3 linked regions of the Homo sapiens genome follow. The protein of the gene in region 1 interacts with the protein of each later gene in a pairwise test. Each region holds a gene or a part of one and is shown in the gene's direction. Other genes may lie near its edges.

Region 1 (8,813 bases):
CGCGCAGCCCGCGGCCCAGTGATAATGGCCCGGGTGTCAGGGTTCAGGTTGATTAGGCGCTGTCGCGGTGTAGGATTACAGGAAGTGAATTCCAGGTTGCCAAATAATGCCCCCGTCGCCTCTCATCTGCAACTGGTAGCTTCATCTCCAGTTAAAACAAGAAAGTGGTTTTACCCAGAGGGTGGCATTTTTTGGGCATTTTGCCACTGTGTGCTGAGGTGTTGGCAGGTTTATGTCACAGCCAGCTAACTGTTTCTAGATTTTCCTAGAGAGCTTTTTAGTGATTTAACTCTTTTGCCTTGCCTCGGAGTGTCTGTTGTAGGGATGAAGTTCACGTGCGTTCGCTTTTAGGGAATAAAATAGTCATTAATGCTCAGGCGAGTACAGGAACAAGGAGAGTTGATGTTACTTTGTAGTGAGGACAGTGCTTCAAGACAGATGAATGACAACTGGGAATATTTCCTGCCACGTGAAATGTGGGAAATAAAGAATCACCATGAATCCATCAGGCCCTTAGAAGCTTAAATGCTGCTGTTGTCTATAAAGTTTAGTCATATGCATTCGTAACTTTATTATGAATTATAGGAGAACAGATAAAAATAGCAAAGTAGCCTTATCAACTAGATGTAGTTTCCCCTCCAAAGAATTTATTAATAATTTTATTTAAAGAAAATCTTTTGTAGTTTTTACTACTTAAGCAACTACTTTCTTTTAAAGTGGTCAGGAAAAGCAATCATACAAAATAAAGATATGGGAGAAATTTAAACATTGAAATATTTTGGAGTTTGTATGCCATTTGCTTAGTTGTCTTTTACATGTAAAATCCACAATTCCACATGGCATGCAGGTTTTCTGTGTGTTTGGCATAAATCACTAGTTTAATTTTTTTTGCCTCTAACGTTTTTTCTCTAATAATTTCAACAGTAGCCCATTTAATATTCAATATATTAACTTGTCTTAAATGATATAAAACCTTGGCAAACCTTAATGATAAGCTCCCACCCCCTTGTTGTAAGTGTCTATTGTGTGTATTTCAAAATAGTTACTTACATCTAAAAATGTTCATTCCTCCTTAAAGAGTTGAACACATACGTTTTATAAAATCGTATTTTTTTCTTTTTACTTATTTTGCTATTTCTATTTCTTCATGGTAAATACTTAGGATGGTTTGTCTCAGTCTTTCATATTAATCGTCTCACTTGAGAAGTATTCATCCTTTCAATGTTGTGAGTTAAAAAGTTTGGTGATGGATTCTGGCTTGTTTATCTCCCCTTTTTGGGACTTGAAAATATACTTTATTGAAGCAAAAGAAAACAGTTCTGTGACCCACTTTTTAAAAGAGAGGTTTATTAATTTGTTGTCCTGATACTGGAGCAAATAATGTCAGACTTTTGGCATAATCAGTTAGTATATGCATATAAGAAATAAAAATTCATAGAGTATGATGGTACCAATTATGAGATATGCTAAGTGCTGAAAATGTTTGAAAAAGTTCTGAAACTCCTTGGAGACAGTGTGTTCCAAAGTGGCCTTTGTGGACAGAAAAGGCTTGGACTTAAAATTTTGGTATCTTTCTGAAGATCTAATAAAATTCACTAAATTGAAAGGAGCTGTAAACATTTTAGAATGTAATTGTTAACAACGTGCTTCCCTAAAACAAGTTTTTTCCCCTCCTCTATATCATGTTGAACTATGAAAGAAAGTGCCTTGTTCTGTTGACCAGGGATAACTTTAGTGTTAAATAGTGGTTGGTTTTCAAATTTTCTGAGACTATAGTTCACATTTGAGCCCTTATGTGTTTAATATAAACTAAAATTATTATCTTGGTGAAGAATAATAGATTTGTTTCAACCAGCTGCCTTAGACACTTTCTCTTGATTAACTTAATTTAGTAATAGCAGAGGTCTTATTAGCTGCTTCCCAAATTGAAAATAAAGATGACATTATTTTGTCTCAATACATATCGTTTATAATACACGATAGTAAACTGGTTAAAATTGTTTAGTGGAATTTAAATTTTTTTAAAAAAGACAGCATAATAGTGTGTAAAGAGATTAATTTAGACAACTTTAGAATATAACAACTTAGAAGATAAGATTTTGATAGTACAAAGGTTTCTAATTGAATGTTAACAAAATTATGAGTTTAAGTTTATATAATTTCCAAATGTATGTTAAGATGTTAATAGTTTCTTTGTAACTGTTAACCATGTATACAGTTTGGAGCAAAGCCAGGCCTTTTGAAAAATGCACATTCTAAATTTTAAAAAATGTTTAAAATACATTTCTAGTTAGTTTTTTTATAATTAAAGGATTTTTTTGAACATAGAGTAAATATAAAGTAGATTATATTTCTACCATTCTATGTTCTTTTGTTTAAATTTTCTTTATAAAGCAATATAATAAGCATAGATAACTACACAAGTATTTATAGCTCTGTATCATTTATTACCGTTTTCAGATATATTGCAGTCTTTTCAATGGTGTAATGATGGATACAATAAAATTTGTCTTAAAAGTGGAGCCAAAAATTTGGGAGTACATATTTGTTAATCTTTAGTGTTCCTCTTTCTTAAAAGCTGTTCTTTTAAAAATAAGGGAGATCAAGTTAATTGGTTGTCAAATCAAATAGCAATTTATCTTACTGTTTTTGATAAGCAGTGAGGTAAATATAGTTTAAATATACTTCTGAATGCATTGGTTGCAGTAATAAATTCTGCTGTTACTCTACTTATTTAGGTAGAGGGAATTTACTGTGTTTTTTGATGAGAACTAAGTATTCATAAAAGAAGGGGCATTACTTTAGTGTCTCAATTTAAATAGAAGAGAGGGTAGATACACTGTCACTGTCTTTAAGGTTGTGTTTTAACAGGGGACTTAAAAGTGGATTGTTTACTATGTGGTTAGCTTTAGAAGACTGTTAGAAACTAGATGTTTTGCTTTGTCTTTCCAACACTTTCTGGGATGTTTTTACTCTTATCTGAGCAGTGTGTTTTAAAGCATGTATGTAATAAAATGTAAGTGCTCAGATGTGTATGTCAGTCAGCTTTTACAGACGGTCCTTAGGAAAAAAAAAAGGCTAATATCTCTTTAAAAAACATATGAAGGCTAGGAGAGAGTTTAGAGCTAGCAAGAGCACCATGGTGTTGACAGCTTTATATCCCTGCTGGGTAACATTCACTTACTAGAATTGGCGTCCCCTCTCAGCTAGTAATTCACTCCATAAGGATTTTGAAAAAGGATGATTAATGGTGGGGAAATTTATATTTGTGAAATTGTTGATTAAAACTTACAGATCTATTTGAAGATTTAGGAAAAGAAGGGATTATTAAGGATGATGAAAATAAGAATCAGATGATCCTTTTTACCACTATTAGCATAAGTACCTAAAATGTTCTGCTGTATGGAATGCTTCAGCCATGCAACTTACAGCATAAAATGAAAGTGATGCCAATCAAGTTTCCAGAGGAAGCAAGGCATTCTGCTTTTCTCCTGGACTGCTGAAAGGTGCTGGCCAGTTGTGCTTTAATAGCAATAAATTATTGTGCTTCATTCATTGTTAACACAAGCATTTTCATTTTTTAATGTTTGGCTTAAAGAAGAACTTTCAGACAGCTTTATTTAAACTGAATGAACAGCGCTTGAATATACCAGATGGTGTATTTGCTGATAGGAGACATTAAACATCAGAAATCTTTTTGATATTTTTCATTTTCCTATGAATTTTTATGATTTTTTGGTGTTAAATGTTCTACATTTTAGGGAAAAATATTTAAACATTGAAAATATCTTTTAGAGAGATTTGCTTTTTTTATTAAAAAAACTTGCTTATTTCTGAAAAATAATTTATGTTTTATAAATAACAATTTAATTTTGTTGGCATACTGTCTGTTAAAGTTATCTTATAACTAGTCTACCTGAAGTAGACCTATTCGTGCTACCAGGCAGCCCTTTCAAGAACATAACTGTCTTGTTGCAAGGGGGAAAAAAATCATTATGCAGTACACACTGATGTATTCAAATAGGGAAGCAAATGTGATCAAGATTGTTAGTCAGGGCCTCATTTAAAGCTGAACATTGTCTACAACAACAGTTAGTTTAATTGTCTACATGTGGAACACTTCCTTTTAGATGAAAAGAAATGCAGTTCGGGTCAGGTGTAGTCACCATATCAGCAACAGTAGAGAGACATTTAACTTTTTGAAAGGAATGCAGATATGAAAGTATAGATAGGTATATATTGAGATTATAAAATACTTAGAAATATATTGTTAACATGGGCAAAATGGAGAAAACTCCATTCCCAAGGATGAATATCATAATATTTGTAGGAAGTACACATTACTTCAAAAGAGAAAAGATTGTATTTCTCCCTCCTCACTTTTTTTTTTTTTTTTTAAGGTTTTAAGATCTTTTAAATAGAATGAACTTAGGCTTTGGGGTCATCCAACAATCTAGCCTGTCCTCTGTAGTTTTGCTGAGGTAGAAAAATAACTCTTCTCTAAAGTGTTTTTAGTTCTTGGCCTGTTATTAAAATAAAGATATACTTGGTTAAAAAAATATATGCAGTGGAACATACACATTAAACAGAACATAGGGTATCCGCCCCTCAAAGTCCTGAGCATAATTTGATGTTTCAAGTAATTTTGGAAGCCTTATGTTCCATCAGAAGAAACCCACTGACCATTGTATACTCAAGATCATCTGTAGTGCAGTGTGTGTGTGTGTGTGTGTGTGTGTGTGTGTGTGTGTGTGTTGGAACTACATAGATGTCCCTTAAGGCATCTGTTTTTTAACCCCTGCAGAAAATAAGCAATATCATCCTTTCCCAGAGGGTTGTAACCAGCAAAGTCTGTACATATGAGATATCCTGTTTGAATTCTTCTTTTCTTTCTTGAATTTTGTTTTAACCAATCTATCTCTGTAGAGAAGGGAAAACAGACTAATCATCATTTATTAGATAGCTAAGAATATGAATTTGAGTCATTTTAAGTATACGGAAATCAGTTTTATTCCAGGAAAGACTACAGTAATTATTTGGTATATCTGACAAAGTAGTAAGCAGTGAAGTTTGATGGTTATAATTTAAAACCCCTATTTTTCTTTCTTTTTAAAAAGTATTTATTATAGAATCAGCATATGTGTATATATTTAAAAAGACATGTTAAATTTACAGGGCTAGATGAATTCCAAATAGTATTATTTTCTTGGGTTATACTTATCTTTTAAAGCTTTTTAGGTTTCTGTTGGAATAAAATTTCTCACCATTAAAATGTTTCTTATGACTAAGAACCCACATTAGGTGTGTAAAATATGTACATTGTTTTATTTCAGAAAGCCAAACTTTATCCTATATAGCATGTAAATTAATAAAGAATTCTTTATATTGTTTAATCAGTAGGCTTTTAAAAAACCTATATAACTAATATATGGTAACATAGTAATTTTTACTATCTTCCTTACATGAATACTGAGATACAATGGCATTTTGGAACATATTTAAAGATGGAGCATTTGACAAAAGTTGTATGTGTAACAGTTTGTCAGTGAAAAGTGACAAGTGGGAAATGACAAATGAAATGTTGGCATCATCACTCTTTATTTTGATAAAAATGTCTCAATTTGCAGTGATATAATACTGTTTCATATTATTTCATGAGTTGTGTGAGAATGCATAAGGGGAATTTAGATTTTGTGAACGGAAAATTAGCAGCCCAAAGTCTCTTTTCAGAAGCTTTGGCAGCAAGTTCCCCGTCTCCCCCACTCCCCAAGAATAAGAACAGCAGTGAAATGTTGGATCTAACCCATACATTTTAACTCATTATTTTTTGGAAAAAACAGAGAAATAACCTAAAATGGTTTCGAGTAGGAGACCTTTATGCTTAACTCAAAAAAATGAAGAAAAGAGTTTGCCTTTTAGTTTCTATTCTTTTCTTTGTAGCAATTTTTAAATGAATGATTTGCCTCTACTGACTTTGATTGTATGGTCTTTTTTCACTTCCAATCAACACTGCTCTCCAGCATTAATTTAGGGTGCCAGTAAGGAGAGCTGTGAATTCCTGTTATTTTAAAATGCAATAGAGGTTTTGAAAATGTCTGTGGTGAAAATGGATTTTTATATACAAAAGATTCATCATCCTACTACTTAAATGTAATGTGATAAATATTTCAAAGTCAAAGTAGATGCCCTGAGTGGAACTGAGGTATGACTAAAACAAAAACCAGTTGAGGACTTACAGAGTTTGAAAAAAGCACAGTTGTAGTCATTATAGTATGCTATTTTCCGTTGCTCTTTATTGTTAGCAATTAACCAAACATTATTTTTCTTCTTTTATGTAGAAACAAGCCCTGTAAGCATAACATGCTACAGTGTTTTTGTAAAAATGTTCCATGGTGGAGTTTTCAAAATTATGGAACTCTAGCTATATATATTTGTTTCAATTAACAGAATTATTTTGCTTTTTAGTAGCAAGTGATTTAAGAATTGTGGTAAAATCAGTATAATTAAGTGGCACTGAAAGGCTACATCAGAAATTGCATTCTACAACTTCTGTATCTTTGCTGCTCAATTAAAAAGTTTTACTTATTTCAGATTTTTAAAAAACTAGATAAAAAGACATAATATGGAACAAGTGTGCTTTAGATATATAATTATGACAATAGAGTTTATGGCATGCATTTTTTTTCCCCTTTTTAATTGATGTCCTTTAACTTAAACAAGTGGATGTTATGGTTATTAGTTTGACAAATGCCTAAAATGCAGATAAAAGCATGAATAGAAATTTTAAGAATTTGAAACTTGCAATAAAGTTATCAGCAAACTATGTCAGTTTTATAGTAAGCATATTCTTTATTAATGATTATGACACATAGGACAGGAAAACCTTCTGGGGAAATATATTTCAATTTTAGTTGCTCCTGGTACTGTTACTCACTAATAGTGTGTGGGCAGATTCAGTTCTGCTCTTACCTAGTAGCCGTATCATTGGAATGGAGTTCTATCGTAGTACAGTTGGTTATTAAACTGTAAAATAACAAAAAAGATCAAAAAATTAAGGGGAGGCACTGCAAGCTACTATTTATCAAAAGGGATCCATTTCAAACCAGGGTAACTGGTGCCCACTGATGGTTGCACAGTTACTGAAATGTGCACAGCAGCTCAGTGTCTTTCTTTTGTTTATTTGACTGAAGACTTACACAGATATTTATGTATATAATATATAAAATAAGAGACTCTAGTTAGAGCAAATGTTTTCCAAAGTGCTAAGATCTGACAGAGGTGATTTGCAGGGGTTTGTCGTAGAAACAGCGTGAATTTCATCACGTTAACCACATATATCTTTTTCTTTCTTTAAAAAATACTTTTTACTTGTTTTTGCATTTGGCTGGAAAGCAAGTGTATCAGTTCTTTCATAACTGATTGTGATTGATTTTTTTTTTAACACAAGAAAATATTTTCTTTGCAAAGAGAGCAAATTTGATTGGATGCCATGCCCAAGACTCCTGGGAAAGGACCAAAGGACCAAAGGCATAAAGTAAAAATAACTGTATTTTTAGATTTCCCAATTATGTCCTATATTAAAATTGAGTACTTTTATTGCATTTGTTTCAATTATTATTACATATAAGGAAAGGCAAAATTGATATATTTAATAGCTTACTGACGATGCATTCATATCAAAACACTTGAAATAGCAATAGCATTTTTGAAATATTATTTTTTGGGGGTTAACAGAACAAGAACTTTCTTTTGTCATAATCCAAAGATGCTAACAGAGCAGCATGATAAATGTCTCTTTAAGTGTCGTAGTAAAAGAAAATGACTTGTCTTCTGAGGCAGTGGAGAGTTTATGTTGTTTTGGACCCATTTCCCAAGCAGTGATCGAAAACAGATTACAATAACAATTATACAGTCAGAAGATGCAATATCCATTTCTGCTTTAATTGAGTGAAAGAATAATAAAAACATCATTAAGAAAAATGAGGTGGACCTGTCACACAATGTACAAATTTTTAGTCTTGGAGAAGATGCAGAAAAACTGAAGTGCTTTTCGCATACTTTGTTGTGTTTATTAGCTAAAATCTGTTTTAGGGAGAGACCATTTGGCTCTCATTCTTCCCTGGGAAGTTCAAAGAGGAGCCCATGGAAAGTGGTTGCCCAGGAGACATTACAAATGACCATTGACTTTGTCTTCATACACAGTTTGACCAGGAAAATCCCATTTTCTTAAATTCTACCTGAGGTGGAACTACTCTCTCCCCCTCCTTTTTTTTTGTCTCTGTAAATGGAAGTCAGAAGTAATGAATGTTCCTCTTGTTACAAAGCCCAGCCAAGTAAGGGTTAGATGGGGTTCCTAGGCCTGCTGTTCTTCCTCTTCCCAAAGTCCAAACTAGGCTGAAGGGGAGAGAGTTGAGGCTGAATAATGAGCACCCTCATTTCTTCTCAGCACACACCGGGGTAACCTGAGTTGCTCTGTGGGCACATCACCTGAGGTGTACTCACCTGACTGTCACCTGAAATGCAGAGGCTCTTGCTTCGACCTGCAATCCTCTGAATTATGAAATCGATGTCCTTAACATTGCTGAGACTCTGGCTCTCATTCCACAGAGCTATGCTTTCAGCAACTCCGAATGAACCGCCAGGCAGCAGGGGCTGCCTGGGGCTCGTTTTGCCTCACTCTGGGCTGTATTTGTTACTCTATTAATAGAAACTGTGAGCTCCTGAAGAAACCTAGGTGGTGACGGTGGAGTTCACCCGGGAACCTTGACTTAGGGTGGGGATACCTGAGGTGGGGATAACTCGGGTTACCCCCA
Region 2 (9,348 bases), on another chromosome or scaffold:
ATGGAGTGTATACAATGCTAAGAGCATATAACAAGAACTTAACTACAGATATGTCAAAATATCAGTTGTATGAGTGTCTTCATGCACTTCTTCATAAAACAAAATAGTTTTATTTCATCTTTAAGAAACTTTTAAAAAAGCAAGTTATTTTTAATGAAGAATAAATTCAATACATTTTCATGGACATCTTATTGAATCTTTTTCCATTTTCTTCATATGAATATTAACTGATTATTTAACTCTTCCTTATTTTCCCATACCTAATTATTAATTGGCTGTGTCATTCTGGCAATTTTTCTCTGCCTCAGTTTCTCCTTCTATAAAATGGGAAAGAAAGTACTTGCATCATAGAATTATTGTTTGATTGTTTTCCAATTGATTTTGGCTTTTCTCATTCCTATCTCTTCATACATTTTATTATATAAACTGGTCTAAATTAACTTTCCTAAAACATCTGTAATCTTATAATTCTCCAGATTTGATAACCATCTTGATACTCCCTGTTGCCCATGGAATACAATTTGGGCTTCTCCTTCTGACACCTCCAGTTTCAGACCTAACTCACCCTAGTGTATTCCATTACTCACTGACTGACTAAGCTCCAATCTATCTGAACCACATGCCTGCCTTGGGATAGAACTCATCATTATGTCTTTAGTTTTGCTTCACTTTTTCTGGAGCACTGTCAAATATATTTCCTCTTAAAAAAATCCTGCCTGTTATTTGGGGGGCAGTTCCAATACTGGGATCTTCGCCATATAGACTTCTTTGTTCTCTCAGCTATTATCTTTCCTAGTTCAGAACACACACCACTAAATGGCGTTGTACTCTCTTCACATATTCCTCATACTCTATATTCTAGGCAGGGTTAGATACATATCTGTAGTACTTGATTGAGAGTTTTCAGGGCAGAGACTAGATCGGATTTTACTATGAATTCTTCTCCTACTTTCCCATGACACCCAACAGAGTACTCTGTACGTAGAAGATATTCTGTAAATAAAGTTTATTAGGGAAACATTGTGGCAGAACAGAAAGAACACAGGCATTTGAGTCAAAAAAGACATAGATATTGTTTGACCCTGAGGAACTTAAAATATGGGAGTCCCACTGTCTTCATCTGTAAAAAAGGTAATATTATCTGCTTTTCAGGCTGGAGGGAAGGATTAGATATGATGCATGTAAACATTCATAATATGCCTGGATGTAGTAGATGCTCAATAAATATTTTCCTTTTTGTTTTATGTAACAAAACTTATTTCTTCTATTGTCTACCATAAAAAGTATGGCAGTGCATGTGAGATTGATCACTGTGTATAGATGAGGAGAGTTGACTTTCAATAAACAGTATGTGTTTCCTTGAGAAAAAATTACCACCGCCTTTGGAAAAGATGTCTTGGATATGTTATAGCTATACACAGGTAGTTTCCGAACTTGCATCTCTCAACTATTCTTTCTCTGAAATACCCCTCTCAATAATACTGTTGGAGTGTAGGCAGTAGAAAATAGTAGATGAAGGTGGCAGTAGCCAAAAAAAAAAAGAAAAGACTTGTCACTTTCATCTATTAAGTATTAGATTTATTTATTCATTTAGGCAACAAATATTTCAAGACTTTATATGTAGGTTATGCTAGTAGATAGAGTATCTAACATAAAACATTGCACTCTCAGCGAACTTAGTGTTTGGGACAGGAAGATAAAATGCATACATAAATGGCAATGGGAAAAAAGACACATGAGTAAGGTATTAAGATTGGGATTCAGTGCAACTCTGGAGCCAAACTTATGTGGTGGCCACAGAAGAACACTGTGTTTTGAAACCTCACATCGCCAAAGGTATACCATATTCTTTATCTGGCTTTCGATTTTGGATTACTGTAATGGTATGTGAATGTGCTTAGACTAATAGAAAGGAAATTGGGATTAGCCCCAAGCCTGTGTTATGTATTAAAATGCTGATTAAAATAAATAGAAATGAAATTTTTCCCACTCAAGTTTCTGACAACAAATACACCTGTAACTCAAATCAGACACACATTTGAAAAAGCACAGAATTCCCCTGTAGTTTATATTCATTTTTATGTGAGATTAAATAGAAGGTAAGCATAACGCTCAAAATATGGAGACTTGACCATTTTTGAATAAAGGAATTTCACAGTACTGCTGTAAAACAAAGCAGGCAGTTCTTCCATGTTTCTGTTTTGTTAAAATATGTATTTCATCTTTTATCTGTTTGAAATGGTGGCTGCAATTTAGTAAATGCCACCGATTTAGTTTAGATTTTATTGTTACAATGTTACAGTTTTGATAGCACTGGGCATTTTTTCCTGTTAGTTTGTTCTGCTGCTTTCAAGATTGGTATTTAATCAGTGTCCTAGCTCATTCGATGTGTCTTGCTTATAGATCCCTCTGCACTAGAGAGAAGAACCAAGTCTTCTCAAAGCTGACAGTTGTCCAGGGGATTTACAACTGATCATATCCAGTGTGGGGGAAATTTGACCTTTCATACATTCTTTTCCATAACTATTTTGGGGGAAAACAAGATTAGTTTTCATGGAGCCAGTGCATGGCACATAGTAGGTATTCAATGTGTTTTTGAAATAGATTTTAATACAGCAAAATGTTTGCTATGTTATGCCTTGAAATGTGCTTGTTTTGAACAAACTCAGGTGTCATAGTACAAAATTACCAGTGTTATAGTTCAGTGGAATTGCTAATAGGTCATCTCATGTTTAAGAAATTAAAAAATATTTTTAAAGATTTGCTATTGGAAGAAATCATAATAAGGGCATAGAAAGAAAACACCACAGTCTGGTTAGCAATCTATTTTTAAAATTACTATGATTATTTTGGAAGATATAAGTTAAAATTTTTTTACTTAGTGGCATCTTCCTGATCACGTACCTGCCATAGGGTTATAAAATGAAAGGAGTTTTACTATGTAATGTAATGTAGTCATAGTCTTTTATGTTAAGCAAAATTTGATTGTGAAAACTAATATGCAGAGTGTAACATTTTCTTTAATAACCTGGAGTTATTTCCAGGTGATATCGAAGAGTAGTGTGCTGATAGTAAAGAATGTGGGACTCTTCAGGAACAAATGACTTGACAAAATGGTTATACACTTCTTCCTAATACATTTGTGTGTGTGTGAGATTGTTTGTGTTTATTGGGAGGTATTTGCATTAGTTAATTATTTCTTTTCCTAGTTTTTGTCACCTTTATATGTGCTTAGTGAAGCTTGCTATAAATTATTTAGGCCTGAACTGAAGGTTAATGTCATTGTAACCAGCCAAACTTGACGTACCCCGATGCAGCTTTGTGCGGGAGGCACCTATGGCTTGATAGCTGTGTGAAACTGTTGCCTACAGAGATGGGCTCTTGACACTGTCTGCCAGCCTGAGGCTGTCCGCTTTGTGTCTGCTTTAATTGAAAATTAATAGTTAGGGGGTTGCTATGGAAATGATACCATTGCTTGCAGACAGCAAACCCAGCTTTTTGCAAAGAGACACTAGTGGTATTGTTTGTCCTTGTTGACCTCAGAAGTTCAAAAGCCTGGAGGAGGAAAGGAGATGCAAATATTTTACTTAAAAAAATGAATTTACATATTTATAACAATATTTTTGAATGTCAGAGGTATCAATTTTTTTAACTTTTGTTGGTAAAAATGAGTGTAAGCTTTTAAATTTTATGTTAATTGCTACTACACTGCTTTCTAGGTTGATAAGGCACTATTGCTGAAGAGCATTATGTTATCATTTTAGTGAATGTAAACAGATTTGTGTGAAAATGTTATTTGACTGATGTGATAATGGAAACTATCCTTTATTTCCTCTGGAGTACATAAAGTCATTTGTGTCATTGTATACATTATTCACAGTTTCTTTGAAATGTGGAAGCCCTGTAAACTGTGAAGAGTTGGGAGAAAAAATTTTTAAATGAACAAAGCAGACTTAAAAAATATATTCCTGATACTTGAATATTCGCAGTTGTTTAATTCCCTTAAAATATAAGTTACTATTGCTCATATAATTTCATTTGCTTTGTTCACAATCTGATAAAAAAATGTTAAAAATAAATGTTTACAGGTACTTGCCTATTGCATGAGTTTCCTGTGTTTAAATTTTGGTTTAAAAAAAAACCAATATAAACATACTTTTAATGAGTGAATTATTTAACTATAAAATGAAAAAAATTGCTAACAGAATATTAAACGGTTTTGTATCACAGAGCTAAAGAATAAGTGCTTTCAGTTCCTTTCAGGGGAGGTGGAGAAATAGTGCAGCCTCAGGGGTTGAAGGTGAAATGTGAAATTTGCTGTAATTACTTACCCAAAATGTCTGTATTAAAGGCTATTAGAAGCAGTTATTTTAAGTACTTCTTTATACATCTTTCCCTCTTCTGTTTAGTATTTAAATGTGCAACAAAAGTAGTGGCAGATGTTACTCATCTGAAGAAACTAAAACAAGATAAGTCAGTGGCAGGAGTGGTGGCCGGTTAAAGATCTCTTCGAAGTGCTTTGTTCAGTAACTGTTGTTTTGTCTCACATTAAGTTGTAGGTGGGGTGCTGTTAAAGCTTGTCCACTCACGATGGTGTTCAGCTGAGACCTGTGAGTTCAAGTTGTCTTGCCCAGAGTTAAAGGCCATAAAACTAAGACAGTGTCGTTCCTGTCTTGGGTGTAACTCCTAAAAAACTAGTCAGTTCTTGCAATAGGAGGAAAATTATTGCAAATAAACCTTTGATTTACCAGCTTCAGTAAGTTGTTCATTCTGTCTCTGTAGCTGTAGTTTTTACCTTAACAGTTTGAGGCTACCATTTCTCTTCCTTTCATGCTTATGGGGTCCACACAAACCCTGCTAGGCTACCTACAGTATAAAATCTTAAAACTCCATGTGGTGTTGTGAGCTGGTAGCAGATGGACTTTCTTTTGCATCTGCTGTGTACAGACTTGGCTTTGTACTCTTTTCCTGGGGGAGAGAAAGTCTTTCTTCTCTGCTAGTTGATTCCTGTTTTTGTGAAACAGCTAAGAAAACATCTGTGGCAGGCAGAAAAATTGACAAAGGATTGACAAACACCATTAGCTGAAAATTTTCCATTTCATTGCAACTATGCATTGTTTACTTTACTGTAAATATCTTAATACATCATCCTCTGAATATGCTGGCAGAGAAGCTGGAGAACTGTGATTTCAATTAAGGTTAGTAATTGATGGTATCTAGTGTTCAAAGGCTGAAGCTTGATTAACATCTGCTTGGACAAATTGTCATTGTGAAGTGGTTTTGATGTGCATTGAAGATTATTTCTTTCTGGCTTATCTGATGTTGTGGCTGTGAAATGCTTGTCTTGGGTTTGCTTATTTTTGTAAACTACTTCCTTTGGCTGTAAATTGCAGAGCACTGGAGCTTTACCAAAAGTGCAGTGTATAATGGTAAGCTTGTCCTAATAAGGGAAGCAAGAAGTGTATTTATCACAGACATGAAAGCTAACCGAGGACTTGAGAGACTCAAACTGGTGCTTTTGTCTCTCTCTCTCTGTCTTTCTCTCTCTCACACACACACTCACACACTCACACACATGCACACACACACATACACACACACAAAAATGAAGCACTTACTTTAGAAAGATTATGGTAAGCATGCTGGCTCAGTCTTGAACCTTTGTCACCCCTCACGTTGCACACCAAAGACATACCCTAGTGATTAAATGCTGATTTTGTGTACGATTGTCCACGGACGCCAAAACAATCACAGAGCTGCTTGATTTGTTTTAATTACCAGCACAAAATGCCATCAGTCTGGGACGTGATCGGGCAGAGGTGTACTCACAGTAGTGTAAATACTGCTGTAAATAGTTGTCTGATGGTGGCTTTGACAGTGAGCTAGCTTCTGAGTTTTCCCTTCTTTTTATACTGTTTTCTGTGCTGGCTTTTTTGAATCTTCCTAATTTTTCATCTCTTTAACAAACTCCTATGAAGTTGAAACCGGGAAGTTTGCTCTAACATTTCCAGAGAAGGTACGTTACTTTTTGCTAAGAGAATATCTGTAAGAGTTTAGAGAGGGGTGGGATTTTACGATTGCTTTACTGGTAGATTTGGCAATTGCTTTACTTTTTTTTTTTTCTGAGACTGTAGCTCATTGAAATGAACTAGAGCATTGTATCTGTTTGCGAGGGAAAAGCCGGGAGACCAGACACAGGAACTGTTTTTGATCTGTCAGTAGCGTAATGTAGATTTAAGCTATCACTAGTAAAGACAGCAAATAAAGAAGGCCTCTTTTGTATTAAAAAAAAATCTGCAAGATCTTGAGAAGAATAAAGACAGGGTTCCTGCTTTCATGGTTTGATAATAACCATGTCATCTTGCTTTTAGTAAATGCCCCAGTATGTGTCAGGGCGCAAGTTTTTGAAAAGGGAGTTTGACCACACGTTTGGGTGCCTCTCTGTGCCGTGCTGTGTAGAGCAGATGTTTATTTTGTGCTAAAGGGGAAACTCTTTTTGCTAAGCTTGTACAAACATGAAAGGAGTCAGGGCTCAGATGATCTTTGTAGTTTTATATGCATGTTCATGATTTTATTAAAAATTGGTTGGTGGGTCTTTTTCAAATCACTGATTGTGAAGAAATATATATATTTCCAGGAATACACATTGTGAATTGATGAGTAATTTTTAGAAACTGCATTATATTTCTTCAAATAGGTGTGATAGTTTAATACTCGTGTCAGTTAAAAAGGTAGCTTGGCTGGGCTATAAATTACCATTTCTGCACTTTTCATTCTGTCTGCTTCAAAAAAGCGTCTCAGAACCTGGGATCCTATTGGGCCCATCATAGGGCTACAGTAATTGCCTGATGACAACTGAAAATGATAGAATAATTGTCAAGAGAGACATTTTTAATGGGCAAGGTGATTTAAGTATGCATGAACAAGCTATGAGGGAAGATGAGCTTGTTTATGATGCAAGCCAGTATAAACACAGTCGGAGGATGACACAGATAGCTGCACTTTTCCCAGTGACATGAGCAAGTTCTTACTGCAACACCAACAGCTTTTTCCTCTGACCAGTTTGACATTCTTCACCTTCAGGTAATAACGCCTAAATTTCATCCATGTATTTTCACTTTACTGTAGCCTAAGTGACAGGTTTTTGTTTACTAGCCTCCGCGACCAAAAAAAAAAAAAAAAAAAGCACTCTATTTAATGTGTGCTTAGAATAGATCTTGAATCACTTTCACCGTCAATAGTGTGTGTAATACAAAACTTTCATTCTTATTTTCGATTGTTCCTTATCTTTGAACTGTTCTGACTTTAAATCTGATTATCTATAGTTGATTCATAATGCCCTTTTAAAGGCATATTTATTTGTCTTTACAGTCAGCCCTTCTGCTGTACAAGTTTGGAAACAAAGTATACTTGAGAATATGTGGAGAGGTTTAATGATTAGCCTGTTGGTTTTCACGGAAAGCAGAGTCCTATACCTAACAGAGATTACGGTATTGAAGGGTTACAGGTATCTGTTTAGAAATATGGTGCTCTATTAGAAAACAACTTGTTTGACTTTTTTTTTTAAACCCATGTAAAATTTCACAGAATATGCTCACGTTTTATTTTAAAGATCACTAAAATTATATGCATTGAAATACTAATAATCTTTGTAAAAGGTGGATAGATAATTTGTTTACTTTATTATTCATGAAGGCAAGTAAGGCATGGTATTCTGCTATTGTGGGCATATTATTAACATTTCATAGGGATTTGTGCTGGAATGTGGAATGCTGCTTCTTCATAATTTAATACTCCTATGCATAATGAGGTTTGTGATTAGTTGATAGAGAGAATTGGCCCAACTCCATTCTGAAAGCAGATAATTTACATTGTTCTCTAGAGTCTAGAATCTAATAGGTTCTTTAGTGCAATAAAATTAAATGCTACATGTTTTAAATTTCAGCATACAAATCCCCCTGGCAATTTTCTGTTTTTAATTTTTGCCTTTTGTTTCCTCTAAAACAATGAATTTTAAAAATTGTTTCTAGAACATATATTTACCTAGCTCTTTTATTTAGTATGTACAAGTCAATTAGCACTGTTCATTAGCAGAATTGGGTATTTGTTTTAAAGTTTAACCAATCACTTTGAAATGCTAATTATGATGTAATTTAATTGCAAGTCCTGTAATGATGATGCTGATATTATCGACATAAATGATGCAGTTAAGCAGTGGAATCTCATTTGCATATGCTTAAAGCAAGTTGAATTGGGCTGTTTCAATATCACTTTGCTTTAATTTTCCACCTCTGTTCACACCAGCCCTTTGGGTTTTTAAAGCTGTGGTTTCCTATTGATGATCAGTGCTTTCATCTTTATTTTAATGACAAAGGGGCAACAACTGACACTGGAACTGTAAAAATGAAAAGCAAATAATTACTTCTATTAAATATACGAACTATGAAACCTTTTTTGGTAATGATCATTCTTTAGAAACTGACAAATGCATGCATTTTTGGTATTTTCTTATAGCATTCTTACACTTGGAAATGATACTATGAAAGAAATACACGAACTGATATACAGTAAAGTGCTATGCCCCAAGATGTTTCTACTTTGTGAAAAGTACTTTATTGCATCTTAAAATGTTGTAGAAAGTAGACATTGCAATACATTTTTCAAAAACTTTCTGTGCATTCAGATTTTTGTGAGGGTATATTCCTTTAAAAGGAACAACAAGGCGTTATACTCATGATTGAGCTGATATTAAACTCCAGTGGTTATCTGTTTTTGTAGAGGTTTGGACTTGGGTAATTTTCTTCTGGAAAGATTATTTTTCTTCTGACCAATTTCTCCTGTTATGTCCTAATTGGTTACATAAATCTTGTCTGGTATGAATGAGAAATGTTTCTGTGTTGTCAAGTGTAATCTTCACCCTTATTTACCAATTCATTAAGATCTATTGATGCAGGACTGGTGAGAGGGAATGACAACATAAATCAGCCCTCCAACATAATGACCCTAATCAGCTAGAAATAACTGGAAACGTCATGATGAGCTATGTCTCTGTATTACTTCGGCAAGATTCTGTGGCTAGCGAGGTTTGTGTCTGCTTCGATCATTAACTTTACATCCACTCACCTTCTTCTAAAGAAGTTGTAGTGACTCTTGTTAGTATTACAAAGTTCTTTTTCTCAGACATTTGAATCTTTAGGAACCATAGAAGAAAAAAAGAAAGAGAAAAGGAAACTCACAGAACAGACGTCATGAAGGCTAATTAAAGCAGAAAAGAAACAAAGCTATTGTAGTGTTTTAAAGAACTTTCTGGTGATGATTGAAGCTGTGGGTTCAAAAAAAAAAGCTATA
Region 3 (4,931 bases), on another chromosome or scaffold:
AGATCATTTGAGGCGAGGAGTTCAAGACCAGCGAGGACAACAAGGCAAAACCCCATCTCTACCGGAAAAAAAAAAGGAGGAATTCAGAAAAGGCCAAGGTTCCATAGACCTGGGGTAGCAGGAAGTAGGGGACCGGGTTGGCGAGGCCTTTATGGGATGAAGAGATTGAGAAAGGCCTTCAGGAAGAGGCAGAGCTTATTTTTCCTTTTTATTTTTATATTTTTGATACAGAGTTCCACTCTGTTGCCCAGGCTGGAGTGCAGTGGCATGATCTCGGCTCACTGCAACTCCACCTCCCAGGTTCAGGTGATTCTCCTGCCTCAGTCTCCCAAGTAGCTAGGACTACAGGCATGGATCACCACACTCAGCTAATTTTTTTTTTTTCTTTGTATTTTTAGTACAGACAGGGTTTTGCCATGTTGGGCAGGCTGGTCTTGAACTTCTGACCTCAGGTCATCCATCCACCTCAGCCTCCCAAAGTGTTGGGATTACAGACACGAGCCACCACACCTGGCCGGGAGGAGACAGGGTTTAGACTCAGGGTGGGAGGAGGGGAGCCCCTGCTCCTCATCTGTGGCCTCTGTGTCTTCCTAGGATCACCATTAACAAGGACACCAAGGTACCCAATGCCTGTTTATTCACCATCAACAAAGAAGACCACACACTGGGAAACATCATTAAATCGTAAGTTTCCCGTCACAGGCTCTCAGGGGCTATGTTTAATGGGCCCCTCTGGGCAAAGCACAAGTTCCAAGTCTTCCTCAGTCTCTCTGAGCTACAGGAAGTCCTTCTGGGGGCTTGCTCTGGGCATTTTATAATCTTGGTACCTTTTTATCAAAATGACACCGACCTCCATGTCTTCACATAAGCCACACTTCTGTAGTGGCTTATTCTGTAGATGAACACGTGCATTTACATTCACTGTTTGTTTGTTTGTTTGTTTTTGAGATGGAATTTTCTCTCTTTGTTGCCCAGGCTGGAGTGCAATGGCACGATCTTGCTCACTGCAACCTCCGCCTCCCGGGTTCAAGTGATTCTCCTGCTTCAGCCTTCCTAGTAGCTGGGACTACAGGCCCACGCCACGATGCCCGGCTAATTTTTGTGTTTTTAGTAGAGACGGGGATTCACTGTGTTGGCCAGGCTGGTCTCGAACTCCTGACCTCAGGTGATCCACCTGCTGGCTTCCCAAAGTGCTGGGATTAGAGACGTGAGCTACTGCGCCCGGCCTTACATTCACCATTAAGTGCACATTCTGTAAATGAACGAGCAGCAGATTCCAGCACAGTAGGCCTGTTTGTTATTCATGCTGAGGGACATTGAAAAGCAGTCAAGATTAGCTCCCCTCATGCCACCCGTTTGTGACCTCAGTGCCACCTGGGCCTCTAAGATGTATGTGGCAGAGACTAGAACTTCTATTTAACAAGAGAAAGAAGTAGGAGTTCTGTGGCTATCCAGTGCCCCTAATGGGCACCCTGCATTGGTTGGTGGGTGTTTGTTTATACCAGTGAGGTCCTAGCCAGGTGGTTGGTCAGGGATGTGTCTGCCATTCTGGCCCAGGGACTTGCCATTTTACTGTAGACTTGGCTCTTCCCTCTGGTGCCACCAGCGAAGCCAGGCTTTTCCCCGTCTGTGAGTGGGGTCTGCCCAGTCTCCTGGTGTGGTCAGGCACGGGGATGGAGGAATCCTGCCCGGAGCCCAGCCAGTGGGGCACCCAAGCTCTCCTGGGGCCCTGCTGCTCCCCTGCTCTTGAGCTCAGTGTTGCCACCTATGCACGGGTCCCCCTTGTGGTGCTCACGCCACTCTGAGCCACTCTAGAGGAGACCCCTGCATGCCCAGGGCACAGTACGCGATGCAGCCCCATGGCACAAGGCCCAGTGTGCGTGGCCAGCCGCTGGCGGCTGTGCTGCTCGGAGGGCAGAGTTCCATTTGCATTCCACTCACTGCCGGGAGCTGGCCCTCCTCTCCTGCTGCCTTTATTTGCTGCGTGGAGGCTCTTTGTGGGCTTTTTGGGTCTGAGTCACTGAACACTGGCTGGACATTCACTGCCTGGGAGATCTCTTTGCCAGCACTGCGGTGCCCGGTGGGAAGAGGTTGCTGGAATCTCTTTCCAGCTCGGGTCCTTCAACCTCATGGATGCAGAGTGTGTGTGTGTGGCGGGGATAGGGTGTCCCCACATGAGGTATCTTCCTAAAAGTGTTACTTTCCTTGAAGACTTTTTGGGAAAAAAGTTGGGGGGGATTTTTGGCTAGAAAGTCTGTTCTTCTGCTCTGAGCTGGCTGCTACCCAGCTTGGGCATGAGGCTAGACCCTCACACTGTCTGTCCCTGGACCTCAGACAACTCCTAAAAGACCCGCAAGTGCTATTTGCTGGCTACAAAGTCCCCCACCCCTTGGAGCACAAGATCATCATCCGAGTGCAGACCACGCCGGACTACAGCCCCCAGGAAGCCTTTACCAACGCCATCACCGACCTCATCAGTGAGCTGTCCCTGCTGGAGGAGCGCTTCCGGGTGAGGGCGGGGCCTGGAGGGGCAGACGGGGTGGGCTGGACACTGGCCCGTGTGCCCAGGCCTGGGACAGCCCTGGCCTGTTTCTTCGGAGGTCCTCAGGGAGAGGCGGCGGTGATGGAAGAACAGGGACTTCCACCACAGGCTCCAGGACATGTGGACTGAGGGGCTGTGGAGTCTGGGCCTGTGGCTCCCGTCTGCCCCATGGGACTTCTGTAGTGCTGCAGGGTCCCTCGGGTGCTGTGGGCCAGATCCGGGCGGGGACCTACTGTCCTTTGGGGGTGCTCTTCTACGTCCCTTGTCGGTGATTGGCAAGGCCTGGTCCTTCCAGGCCTCTGGGAGGCAGCTCACCCCAGGGTGGCCCACACCTGTTCCTAGCAGGGCGCCTGGGAATCTAGAACAGTTTAGAGGGGAAAGAGCCACAGCAAAGAAAAGCCGAGGCAGGGTGATCACGAGGTCAGGAGTTCAAGACCAGCCTGGCAAACATGGTGAAGCCCTGTTTCTACTAAAAATACAAAAATTAGCTAGGCATGGTGGCATGTGCTGTAGTCCCAGCTACTCGGGAGGCTGAGGCAGGAGAATCGCTTGAACCCGGGAGGCGGAGGTTGCAGTGAGCCGAGATTGTGCCACTGCACTCCAGCCTAGGTAACAGAGCAGGACTCCATCTCAGTCAATCAATCAATCAATCAATCTCAGCGGTTGAACTACCCTTGACATGGTTCAGCTCTGTATCCACACCCAAATGTCATGTCAAATTGTAATTCCCAGTGTTGTGGGAGGGACCTGGTGGGAGGTGATTGGCTCATGGGGGCCGACTTCCCCCTTGCTGTTCTCGTGATATTGAGTGAGCGCTTGTGGGATCTGGTTGTTTAAAAGCGTGCAGCCCTCCCACTTCACTCTCTCTGTCTCTCCTGCTCCAACATGGCCAGACGTGCCTGCTTCCCCTTCGCCTTCTGCCGTGATTGTCAGTTTCCTGAGGCCTCCCCAGCCACGCTTCCTGTACAGCCTGCAGAACTGTGAGTCAATTAAACCTCTTTTCTTCATAAATTACCCAGTTTCTCATAGTTCTTTATAGCAGTGTGAAAACAGACTAATGGACCCTTCTGGTTGAAGGAATGCAGCCATTCTGCTTGTTTGACTATGTCCTTTCTATTCATCTCTATTTCCTGGGAGGTGTTTATCCAAGTGCAATAGGAGGTATTGGTGACCGCACAGTCCCCTCAGTGTTCTGCTAGTAAATAGTTGAAGGTTGATCATTGATCTTCTGCGTTTTCAGTCTGGCATGGAAAAGCCCCTGTGCAACTGGTAAAGATATCAATAAGCACCAGGAGGTATCTAAATCCACCAGGAGCCATAGGCATCACGTTGACATCCATTTACCAGTCTTCCCTGGCAAGATTCTTCTGAATTGTGCTGCCTTGGCCAAAAGAGGTATGGGAGGGGCTGGGCGCAGTGGCTTGTGCCTGTAATCCCAACATTTTGGGAAACCAATTCAGGTGGATCGTTAGAGGTCAGGGGTTCAAGACCATCCTGGCCAACATGGTGACATCCCATCTCTACTAAAAATACAATAAGTTAGCTGGGTTTGGTGTTGGGTGCCTGTAATCCCAGCTACTCGAGAGGCTGAGGCAGGATAATCGCTTGAACCTGGGAGGAGGAGGTGGCAGTGAGCTGAGATCGTGCCATTGCACTCCAGCGTGGGCAACAAGAGTGAAACGTCGTCTCAAAAAATAAAAAAAAGGTCCGGGCTTGATGGCTCACACCTGTAATCCCAGCACTTTGGGAGGCCAAGACGGGTGGATCACGAGGTCAGGAGTTCAAGACCAGCCTGGCCTAGATGGTGAAACCCTGTCTCTACTAAAACTACAAATATTAGCTGGGCATGGTGGCATGCACCTGTAATCTCAGCTACTCAGAAGTCTGATGCAGGAGAATTGCTAAAACCCAGGAGGGAGAGGTTGCAGTGAGCCGAGATTGCACCACTGCACTCTAGCCTGGGCGACAGAGCAAGACTCCGTCTCGAAAGAAAGAAAGAAAGAAAGGAAATTCCCCAGGGAAGTACCTCGGCTGATTTCATAAACAGGTACCGAAGGAAGCAGAGGCATGTGGAGGACTTCCCCACCTCATGCAGCTATTTGGGCCATGGCGTCTGAAATTTATTATTTCAGAGTCACCCCTTTGATGACCTTGGCAGTGAACTGCAGTCATCTGTTTAGGCCTTTCCATGGCCCACGTCAATGCCGTTATTTCTGTTTGTTGCACATTTGATTTCCTTGTTGTTGGCATTTAGAAGGCCCCCTGCTTCCCAGATCACACCACGGGCATGGACCACAGAGATTGCATCTTGTGAGTCTGTAGAAATGGTCAAGGCCTTGTCCTCTCTTAGGTCCAGAGCTCAGGTGAATGCAGATTTTCCCGGCCATCT

The links. Proteins that work in one complex are often made in the same cells at the same time.
Region 2: the proteins of SATB2 (region 1) and FOXP2 come close enough for resonance energy transfer, tested with the Homo sapiens proteins (one study listed by BioGRID).
Region 3: the proteins of SATB2 (region 1) and POLR2J3 interact in binary tests that used the Homo sapiens proteins (3 or more experiments, as listed by UniProt).

Annotation. Positions count from the first base shown.
Region 1 is NC_000002.12:199,447,034-199,455,846, reverse strand, and holds part of SATB2 (DNA-binding protein SATB2), read left to right. Parts: intron 1-8,813. UniProt on the Homo sapiens protein: Binds to DNA, at nuclear matrix- or scaffold-associated regions. Thought to recognize the sugar-phosphate structure of double-stranded DNA.
Region 2 is NC_000007.14:114,409,345-114,418,692, forward strand, and holds the start of FOXP2 (forkhead box protein P2), read left to right. Parts: upstream 1-5,470; 5' UTR 5,471-6,016; intron 6,017-9,348. UniProt on the Homo sapiens protein: Transcriptional repressor that may play a role in the specification and differentiation of lung epithelium. May also play a role in developing neural, gastrointestinal and cardiovascular tissues.
Region 3 is NC_000007.14:102,565,588-102,570,518, reverse strand, and holds the end of POLR2J3 (DNA-directed RNA polymerase II subunit RPB11-b2), read left to right. Parts: intron 1-594; coding exon 595-684; intron 685-2,334; coding exon 2,335-2,509; intron 2,510-3,435; coding exon 3,436-3,468; 3' UTR 3,469-3,553; downstream 3,554-4,931. UniProt on the Homo sapiens protein: DNA-dependent RNA polymerase catalyzes the transcription of DNA into RNA using the four ribonucleoside triphosphates as substrates. Component of RNA polymerase II which synthesizes mRNA precursors and many functional non-coding RNAs.